2 separate regions of the Homo sapiens genome follow, and region 2 is reported to be linked to region 1. Evidence: microRNA targets listed by miRTarBase, many of them from high-throughput screens and not tested one by one. Region 1 holds a microRNA gene; the other region holds the end of a gene's coding sequence.
Evidence for each region. The annotated mature microRNA hsa-miR-6775-5p reads UCGGGGCAUGGGGGAGGGAGGCUGG and lies in region 1 at 2,843-2,867, shown strand. An mRNA with a match to its seed (bases 2 to 7 or 8) in the 3' UTR can be bound and repressed. Matches are read on the target gene's strand: a 7mer-m8 pairs with bases 2 to 8, a 7mer-A1 pairs with bases 2 to 7 and ends in A, and an 8mer does both.

Region 1 (5,073 bases):
CTTCTCCTGCATCTTTCCGTGCCAGCCCGCGTGACTGCCTTTGTTCCCTCTGGCTGTGTCACACATCACTCCAAAATGTAGTGTTCTAAAAGGAAAAGCACTTATTATCTCACAGTTTCCGTAAGTCAGGAATTCAGGGAGCTGGTGCCTGAAGCTGTGTTCTCATCGTAGGGTGTGACCAGGGCTGGAGAGGCCACTCCACAGTGGCTTCCTCCAGGGCTGTGGGCTGCAGGCCCCACCCCTGAGCACACTGGGCTCCCCCAACAGGCTGCTTCCCCCAAAGCCAGTGAGATACAGCAGAGGAAGCTGGGGTCTGGCAGCTGTGGGCTGGCCTCAGAGGTCCTGGCCCTTGCTTACTACTCCTTCCCTGAGTTAGAAGCCAGTCAGGAAGGGCAGCAAGTCCTGGACTCTTTGGCAGCTGCACGGTCCTCGGGAGCACGGCTGTGCCGGGGGTTACAGAAACTGTTTTCTTGGTGACCACTGGGTTAGGTCAGGTTGTGGCCCTCGCACACAGAGCCACAGTCCAGCAGAGCCCAGCTGTGTATGTACACTGTGTTCTTCACCTGTCCTTAACCCAAATGTGGTCTCCATTTCCTCCTCTCCTCCCTCCTTCCCTCCTCTCCTCCCTCCTTCCCTCCTCCCCGCCTCTTCCCTCCTCCTCTCCTCCCTCCTTCCCTCCTTTCCTCCTTCAAGACCTTGCATGTTGCTCAGATGAGGTTTCTCCTTTAAAACAAAATTCCCTGGTGCTCAGCTGGGCCCAGCCAGGCTGGACAGTCCCCGGTGGCCACCACGGCCGTCCACAGCCCTGCTCGTGGGCCCCAGGGCTCAGCCAGCCGCCTCTCTCTTCCAGTGTGTGATGACGCTGCTCTACGCCTTCTCCAAGGACATCTTCTCCGTCATCAACTTCTTCAGCTTCTTCAACTGGCTCTGCGTGGCCCTGGCCATCATCGGCATGATCTGGCTGCGCCACAGAAAGCCTGAGCTTGAGCGGCCCATCAAGGTGAGCCCGGGGCCTCCCGCTCACCCAGGCACCCTTCACAGAGGCAGGGTCCGTGGGTCCTAAGGACCCTGAGTTGGGAGCCAGCATCCCAGCTCAGCCTCTGGACCTGCCCCTGCCTGCATGCACCTGGGTCGACTAATTCCGGTGATGACTTGACCACCAGCTACGAGGGTGCCAAGTGTGACTGCAGGAGCCGGGGTTCCTCAAAGGACAGCAGATGGCACAGAGCTTGTGCTCCGTTGGGTGGAGGGAAGCAGATAAGGACACTGCAGTCATAGGTGGGCGGTGGTGAGCCCCGGCAGGGGCGGGGCAGAGCCGGGCCTGGCGCAGCATTCAAAGGGCCGTCGGGGCTGTGCTGGCAGGAGGAATGCAGGGAACCCGGCCCGAGGAGCGCCTGGGCCCAGCTGGACTCTCCTGGACTCTCCCCGTCCCCAGCGGCTCATTCAGAGGGGTAGCTGTTATCCGTGGGCTGCCTTCTCCAAAAACGGGGCCGTCCAGCAGAGGCCATGCTCTTGCCTGGGGCCCAGCAAGTCCCGCCGCCCTGGCCCTGACACAGAACAAGAGGCCAGAGCCCCTGGTGGCTGCTAGCCAGCAGCTTTTGTCACTCAGCTGGCCTATGGCTGTCACAGTAGCCCCTGCTTCCCTGCCCGGACCATCTCTCCCTCTGTGTTCCCGAAGCCTGGGGGCCCCGGGGGTGCCTGTGAATGCTGTTGAACGGGCTTTAGGCTGGGCGCGGTGGCTCACGCCTGTAATCCCAGCACTTTGGGAGGCCGAGGCGGGCAGATCACAAAGTCAGGAGATAGAGACCATCCTGGCTAACACGGTGAAACCCCGTCTCTACTAAAAATACAAAAAAATTAGCTGGGCGTGGTGGCGGGCGCCTATAGTTGCAGCTACTCGGGAGGTGGAGGCAGGAGAATGGCATGAACCTGGGAGGCCGAGGTCGCGCCACTGTACTCCAGCCTGGACGACAGAGTGAGACTCCGTCTCAAACAAACAAAAAAAACAGGGGCTTTAAAATACAGTCAGCACAAGAACCCAGATGCTGCCCCAAGAGAAGGCTGCAGAGGGCAGGGAGGAGCCGCCCTACATGGGCACCAGCTTGTGCCTGCTGTGCCAGCCTGGGGCAGTGCCTAGGGCACAGGGCAGTCACTGCGCACAGCGGGGGCTCAGCCCCCATGGGGACCTGGGCATGGGGTAGGCTCTACCCACTGTTGTGAGCCTGGGCACGGGTTGGCGTCTGTTCCCTGGGGACAGGGCAGTCATGCAGCCCACACTGATGGGCTGGGACCTGTGGTCAGCCCTGCATCTCCCAGGGTGCCCTGTCCAAGTATGGATTCAGGACAGCTGAGTCAATCCCCCAGCCATGCCGAGCCGCAGGTTGCGGCCTGCAGGCTCCTTGCAGCCCTGCCTGGCTTCTGTGCCGGGTGGAGCTCATCTGCTGAAGGTGACAGTTTAGGCTGCAGCTTCAGGGATGGGCTTTTGCTCAGCGCTGTCCACAGCGGCGTCTCCAAGAGGGTGGTCTCCTGGCTTATTAGTGGGTGGCCACTGTCTCCTGGAAGCATCAGGCCCCTGTGCGTCCTGGCGGCTCAGGGTTTCCAGGCCTGTGATGTGGGAATGGAGCCGTGACCTTCCCTGCCCGTGGGAGGCCTCGGGAGACGAAGCTGTCTCCTTCCATCCCTCATCATAAGCCGCCTGAGCCCCTGGCAACATGCCCAGCACTGTATGCAGAGTCGAGGGCGGGACAGCCCGGTGTGTGAGGCAGATGGAGTGCAGATCGCATCTTGGTGACCTGGAAGTCAGCAGCCGTGGGTGTGGAGGGCCCAGGAGGGCTGAGGAACCTCGGGGCATGGGGGAGGGAGGCTGGACAGGAGAGGGCTCACCCAGGCCCTGTCCTCTGCCCCAGGTGAACCTGGCCCTGCCTGTGTTCTTCATCCTGGCCTGCCTCTTCCTGATCGCCGTCTCCTTCTGGAAGACACCCGTGGAGTGTGGCATCGGCTTCACCATCATCCTCAGCGGGCTGCCCGTCTACTTCTTCGGGGTCTGGTGGAAAAACAAGCCCAAGTGGCTCCTCCAGGGCATCTGTGAGTATCTCGCTGGCCCACAGCCCGTGGTACCCTCTGCCCTGGGCAGCGAAGGGAGTTGAGAGGCGTCGGCCGTCTCCACCCACATGGGGCGAAGCGTGTTGGGTGGCAGGAGGGTTCAGGTCACTGCAGTGTCCGCCAGTGACACGCAGCCCACATGGTTCAGGGATAAGACACACAGCGCAGCACCAGCTAATCTCTCAGGACGAGGGATTCCGGAAAACCAGGCTACTGCTGCCAAGTAACAAAATCCTGCTGGCTGCCACCAGCGGACACAGCAGACTTACCCAGAAAGGCAGAAAGAGGCAGAGGCAGGCGGATCACTTGAGGTCAGGAGTTCAAGACCAGCCTGGCCAACATGGTGAAACTCTGTCTCTACTAAAAATACACAGATCAGCTGGGTGTAGTGGCACACACCTGTAATCCCAGCTACTCAGGAGGCTGAGGCAGGAGAATCACTTGAACCCGGGAGACGGAGGTTGCAGTGAGCCGAGATCGCACCATTGCACTCCAGCCTGGGCGACAGAGCGAGACTCTTCTCAAAAAAAAAAAAAAAGGCAGAAGGAGAAACCCGCCCCCCGGCCCTGTGTGCAGCGGCAGCCCCAGGGGTGCTTTGTCACCAAGCTCAGGACCCCGTCCTCAGCGCCTGCAAATGTGGCCAGGCTCGTAGAAAAAGGCCGGGGTGCTTGCGGGCCTACATGCTGATCCCCATGTCACTGGGTGGCTTGGAGAATTCCCGGGATGGCAGCAACACAGGCAGGGAGACCCCCCACCCCTACCCCACACTCTGATCACCGCCAGGGTCATGGTAGAACATTTGCCTCAAGCTTTGCAGTGGGATCTGCATTAACTGTCATTCAGGACACCAAGAGCTTAAAGCAAACCCCCGTCTCTATCCTGAAAGCAGTCCCCCTCCACAGAGTGATGTCTCTGTAGACAGTCCCAGGCGCGACAGGTCTTCCGAGGACCCGTTAGCAGATTGGCCCCTCCGGCCCTGCCTGCTGTGAACAGTCCAGGCATGTGTCCAGGTGGTGGCCCGGGTGTGGACCTGCAGGAAGGCCTGTCATCCCCCCGTTGCACTTTGCTGAGACACCAGGGCCTGGTTCGTGTGCCCCAGGGGCCGCACTCTGCCTCCCCAGGGTTCTGAAGCAGGCGAGGGGTGGGCCGAGTGGGATGTGGCACTTCCGCATTTCAGTTGAAGACAGCGCCTCGGGCACCCGGCACCCACATGCGCAAGTACACAAGGGAAGGTTCCTTAAAATCCCAGCGCTGGGCAGCGGCGCTGGGTTTGGTGACAGCAGGGCTGGGGGAGCCCCAGCTCACGCCCCCGTGTCCCACGGGTGCCTACCCAGCCCCCAGGCTAACACAGCTGTCTTCTCTCCTGACAGTCTCCACGACCGTCCTGTGTCAGAAGCTCATGCAGGTGGTCCCCCAGGAGACATAGCCAGGAGGCCGAGTGGCTGCCGGAGGAGCATGCGCAGAGGCCAGTTAAAGTAGATCACCTCCTCGAACCCACTCCGGTTCCCCGCAACCCACAGCTCAGCTGCCCATCCCAGTCCCTCGCCGTCCCTCCCAGGTCGGGCAGTGGAGGCTGCTGTGAAAACTCTGGTACGAATCTCATCCCTCAACTGAGGGCCAGGGACCCAGGTGTGCCTGTGCTCCTGCCCAGGAGCAGCTTTTGGTCTCCTTGGGCCCTTTTTCCCTTCCCTCCTTTGTTTACTTATATATATATTTTTTTTAAACTTAAATTTTGGGTCAACTTGACACCACTAAGATGATTTTTTAAGGAGCTGGGGGAAGGCAGGAGCCTTCCTTTCTCCTGCCCCAAGGGCCCAGACCCTGGGCAAACAGAGCTACTGAGACTTGGAACCTCATTGCTACCACAGACTTGCACTGAAGCCGGACAGCTGCCCAGACACATGGGCTTGTGACATTCGTGAAAACCAACCCTGTGGGCTTATGTCTCTGCCTTAGGGTTTGCAGAGTGGA
Region 2 (5,073 bases), not on the chromosome of region 1:
GAAGAACTGCCACATGGGTTATAGTTGAAGGGCTTGTAGGCTTTCCTGGTATGGGGTCATCAAACTCTGCCTCTGGGTGCCACAGATGGGAAGCCAAGAACATAGGAGACAGCAGGAGTGCACTGCCCTGGGGCCTACAGTGGCTCTGAGCCCCAGCAAATGCCCCCCACTTTCATGGTCCCAGAACTGGTCATCAAGAGGACTCAAGGTCTTTGTGTCTACCCTGCATTCCAAACAGGACTCTGCCTTCTTAAGACTAGTTCATTCATTAGCTTCTGATCAGCCAGATCCTTGGCCACCCTCTATTTGAGTCAAGCCCCCGTCCCTGATCTCAGAACACCCCAAGTCCACCTTTTCCTCCCCCACGTGAACAAAATCAATTTCAGGGCAGCCCGCCGGCATTAAAAATTGCTCTACCTAAAGGTTTAAATACCTGGTTTTTGGTAAGTAAAATTCCCATACCACAAAAAGAGTACCAACAACACACCCTCATAAGGGGACCCTCCAGGACTCCCTGAACCTTCCCTGGAGCCCTGGTTTCTCCAGCTGTCCAAAGTTAAGGCTCCCATACACCTAGAGATCAAATATCAAGATGGTCAGTTGGGTTGGTTGGTCGTTTGGCCTACATGGCTCATGCAACAATTAATTCACCTGTCTGGCTCTCTGTCTCTGTCCCTCTGTGTGTGCGCCTGTGCGTGCCTCTCTGTCGCTGTCTCTCTGCAGGGAAAGTCGCTGGCGGGCAAGCGCCTCACGGGCCTGATGCAGTCCTCCTGACCGTTCCTACCGCAGGTCCAGGGCCTGGGCCCGCGGACCCCACAGGCAGGCGGCGGCGCTCCACATCTGCGGACAGAGTTTCCTTACGAGGAGACTTGGTCACTGTGAAGGAGAAAGAGTGAGGGCAATGAAGGGCGATGGTGGGGAGACTCGGTGGGTGAATGGGGAGACCAGAAAGAAAGAGTCCACAGAGCCTGGGCTGGGCCCGGTGGAGGCTCCTGTTTACAGCCCTCTCTTCTTTGTACAGTTGTATTCCAACACTCCACTCGCTAAGAGGCCCTGATCCCAGCTCATTCAGGGGAGAACACGTCGTGGGGTTCCTGTCACGACTATCACTTGAGATTATATTATTATCCTCACTCCCTCGCTGTCTGGAGACGGTCACACCTTCTGGCAAATTCAAGAGGCATGAGTGGACCGAGAGCACATCCAGCATTTGCATCACCTCCCTGGCACCTCCCATAGTTACAGCCACTACATCCCCACCGCCGCCTGTCATCCCTCACGTCTCTGTGGCCACCCGGGTGTCACTGCCAGCACCAGGCACTGCTTTCACGTAAAATGTCCAAATCACATCTTCAGCAAGAAAGCAACCTCACGGATTGCCCCGCCTCAAGGTCTTTCCACCCTCTTTGAGATCAGCGTTCGGAGAGGTCCCCGCCAGCCCGGTGGCTGCCCTCAGGTCCCGTCACATGTCTCAAGGGTCCAGCGTTCGAGGAAGCACTGTTGTAGATGACAGAGCTTTTTGTTTCACAGCTGCGGGGATTCTGCTGACCATCTTTTAGAAAATTATTTCATAATTTATTCTGGCTTTGCCCCCTTGCTCCTTGGTTTATTCCCTCATGTTTTACTCAAAATAAACATGGCCATGAACTCAGGGGCCATTGGGATTCTCCCCTCTGGCAGCCCCAGGTGGGAGCTGGGAGGGTCCCCAGCCCAGGAGGTGGCTGGATTGCAGGGCTGGCAGCCCCCACGTGGTGGCATCCTGACAGGCACAGTGAGACCCTTGCTGGGTCAGGTCTCCTTTGTGTGTGAAGCTGGGGCAGAGTATGCTACGAAGGGACCAGGCCAGGCCACAGGGCTCTCCTCCCAGTCTTTATCTGAAGGCCCAGCCAAAGCACCCCTCTAAACCGGTCACCTAGGGGAAATGCAAAAACCTGCAAAAGATCCACCTGTATTCCCTGTGTGTGTGTGTCAAAATGACCATTTGCCAACCTGGCTGTGAGGTAATGTATGTAAAGCACCGAGTCAGGTGCCTGATACGCAGTAGGTGCTTAGCAAACGGTAGCTAATACTATCATCATTGTCATTGTTATTGTGACACCCATGAGCCCACAGACAGAGCTGTATTAAGTAACCTGTTTTGAATCCAGACATTCACTCCCCCACTTGCTATGACTACCCTCCTTTGATCTATTTTTGGTCATAGGTAAAAAAAAAAATCTCTCTTGGGAGCATATAAACAAAAAACATAGAAGCAATAAAGCGATCGCTGGTATTTCTTTTCTCATGCAGCCAAATTCGCCAGCTGGTGACCAAAGGCTCAGATGCTTGCTTATTTGCAGACCCGGCCTCCTGGGTGCTCCCCAGTGACCCATCTTTCCACCCCACCACCTCCAAGTCCTGTCTATGTCTGCTTCCACACAGCCCTGTCCCCAGGGCACCAGCCTTCTGTCCCTCACAGCAGTGCCATCGCGGGCATTAGGAGTCTTCGTTATGTTGTATCCTTGTGAGTTCTTGACTACCATGCCCAAGTTTCCCCCACTGGCAATGGTTCCTCTCTTGGAGGTACAGTGGAAACCAGAGAGATGACAGATGTTGAGTCCTCAGTGTCTCAGAGGCAGCAATTCTTGCTGGACACCTGCACATGCTCAGCACAGAGGCTGGTACTTTGGAGGCACTAACCACTTGATGAGTAAATCAATGGCATAAAGCCCCATTCCAAGTTATGGGGTCTTTTGACAGGCCCCTTTCATCCTCTTTCTCTTTGTATAAACCTCATGTTTCAGAACAAAATTACAGTCTAAGTTCATTTGCCCCCAGCCTTGCCCAAGGATCCCCGGGCTGTGCTGACCCCTAGGCATAGGGCAAAGGGTGTTCCCAAGCAGCAGGCACCTCAGTGCCCTCAGTTATCCAGGGCAAGGGGCCTGGCTGCCCCCTGCTCCTCCCCATGATGCAGGGGCTTTCTAAGCCAGGCTGCAGACAGGGCAGGGTTGGCTTCTTGGCCATTCCCTCTGTGCCCCCTTCTCCTTCTGACTGGTCTCACCCTGGAGATCCCCAGAGGATCTGACCAGAGCCAGGTGGACTGTGGCCCTGAGATGGAGCTGGCTGCAGGCTTACAAGCACCTCTGGGGACATCCAGAGGGGAGGGTCAGTAAGCACAACGGAGCTAGGGAGACTTCAGATGGACTCAAACCCAGAGCAATAATACTCTCACACCACCCCACAGCTAAGGCACTCATGTTCCCCAGTAGATCAAGCCAGAAGCTTTGCAAGAAGGGAGTGGAACGAGGCTGCCTATCCAAGGTCCATCTACCACGCAGAACTTGGTCATGCAAGTACATTTGGAAAATCTGGTCTTGGCCCGTCCCCCATTGGCCTGGTCTACACAGCCAAAAATTCAGACTAGATTAGATGTTTGCAGGCAATTCTGTAGCAAAGCAAATTCCCCTACCCCGTCCCTTCCCCCTAGAAGCTGCCTTAGCCTCCCTGACTGGGTGTGGTCTCTGGGCCTAGGACTCCTCCCTATGAGGAAAAGTGCTCTCCAGCCACATCTTGGCAGCCCCACAACCACAGCATCAGGGCAGCTGCAGCAAGTGACCACCCACCCGTCGGGTTAGACACACAAGGCACCAGGCACTGGCATCTGACTAAAATAACCTTTCCCTACATGGGAAGAGGAAAGCTTGTAGGCTGGCACATATAAACGTCCAGCCGCAGCCAGATGGCCTGAACTAAGCAGCAGGAACTCTCTGGGCTGGGGAGGAGCCTCCTGCCCTTCTAGAAAGTGATGCGTCAGCTTTGTTCTCCTGGGAAGGTGTTGCTATACCCCAGGAACAAAGCAGGGCCCAACTGCCAGTGCAGTCAGCTGGGCCTGCGCTCCAGGCTCACCACCGCTAAGTGGTCAGGTACCGGGCCAGCATCCTGGGAGGGACCTCTTGCGACTCTGAGTTGCAGCTTGGACTAGCTGAACACATGGGGACATGCTCCAGGGGCTTCTTCCCTGGCAGGATTCCTGGGATTTCAAACTACCTCACCAACAGGACGCTGAACCAGGAGCCTGCCACCCAACTGGCCCCCTTGGTGATTGTGGAAGGTGATGTTTTTCCTAAAATGCATCCCTCCTGTTCTGCTCCATATACATGTGCTTCAAAAACCACCACCAGGAAAGCCTTCCCAGAAGAGGGAAAGGATTAAGGGCTCTCTTCCTTTGGGCCCTGCAGAATGTATTGGAGGGAGGTGTTGCTGCAAGGTCCAGGAGCTGGGAAACTCTGGGCTCGGGGGGAGATAATGCACCACCAGCCTCAAAAAGGAGCTGCCCAAGTTGAATATGTAGCAAAGACCATGGGATAAGTTGAATAGTGGCCAGACGAATCACTAATAACTCACCATGGGACCCTCTGAAGAGAGGCCTGTGCTCGTGTAACCATAGCAACAGCAGATGCCAGCAACCTACTCATTAGTACCACCCAGTGATAAGGCATCCCCTGGGCTAGACCCAGGGGCCATAAAGTAGCAAAGTAGCAAATGTAGCAATAAAGGGCCCGGGTCTATACGGGGACAGGGTCCAAATGACCAGGACTTGGCCCTCTCCCCAGCCCCGATGAGGGCTCAGAGCCAGCTGCTGTCAGCTGTCTGGGGAGGGAAGGCCCTGCTCCATACCAGGGGTCCCTGTTCTATACTCTAAGCCCACTCACCGCATGATCACGGACTCATCGGAATGGCCTCCTCTTAGTGCATGTGGTTCTCTTTAGTTTATTTTTCTGGAATTTGGGGATTGGACCCCAGAACCAAACATGCTGGTACAGTCTAAAAATAAATGACTTGAACCCACTTCAATCCAGCTAACTCTGTGTGGCTCCTTGGTTTGGGGGTTCGTTGGGCAGGATGTACCTCTAGAAAAATCGACCACCCCTCCCCACACTCCACCCTTCCCCATTATCACACACACACACACACACACACACACACACACACACACACACACACACACACCTGTTTCCTTCTCACTCCCAACCAGGCTGCCAGGCAGCACAGAAAAACCAGATCTCTGGGGCATTGGACTCATCCTGGTAGGTA

Region 2: the mRNA of RGS6 is a reported target of hsa-miR-6775-5p. Seed matches in the 3' UTR shown: 7mer-m8 at 1,378-1,384 and 7mer-A1 at 4,592-4,598.

The regions. Positions count from the first base shown.
Region 1 is chr16:87,832,425-87,837,497 of GRCh38, reverse strand. MIR6775 (microRNA 6775) reads left to right here and starts at 2,838; the gene lies at 2,838-2,906. SLC7A5 (solute carrier family 7 member 5) reads left to right here. Exons shown (of 10, transcript NM_003486.7): 8 at 851-1,000; 9 at 2,907-3,084; 10 at 4,473-5,073. The coding sequence ends at 4,528. It overlaps SLC7A5-AS1 (SLC7A5 antisense RNA 1), which reads right to left and starts at 1,233. Exons shown (of 2, transcript XR_007065175.1): 1 at 696-1,233; 2 at 1-85. RefSeq lists enhancers at 1-821, 2,913-3,467 and a silencer at 2,601-2,895.
Region 2 is chr14:72,561,694-72,566,766 of GRCh38, forward strand. It overlaps RGS6 (regulator of G protein signaling 6), which reads left to right. Exons shown (of 18, transcript NM_001204424.2): 18 at 724-4,837. The coding sequence ends at 774. Among named protein-coding and RNA genes, the nearest start is that of MIR7843, 47 kb to the left of the region's middle.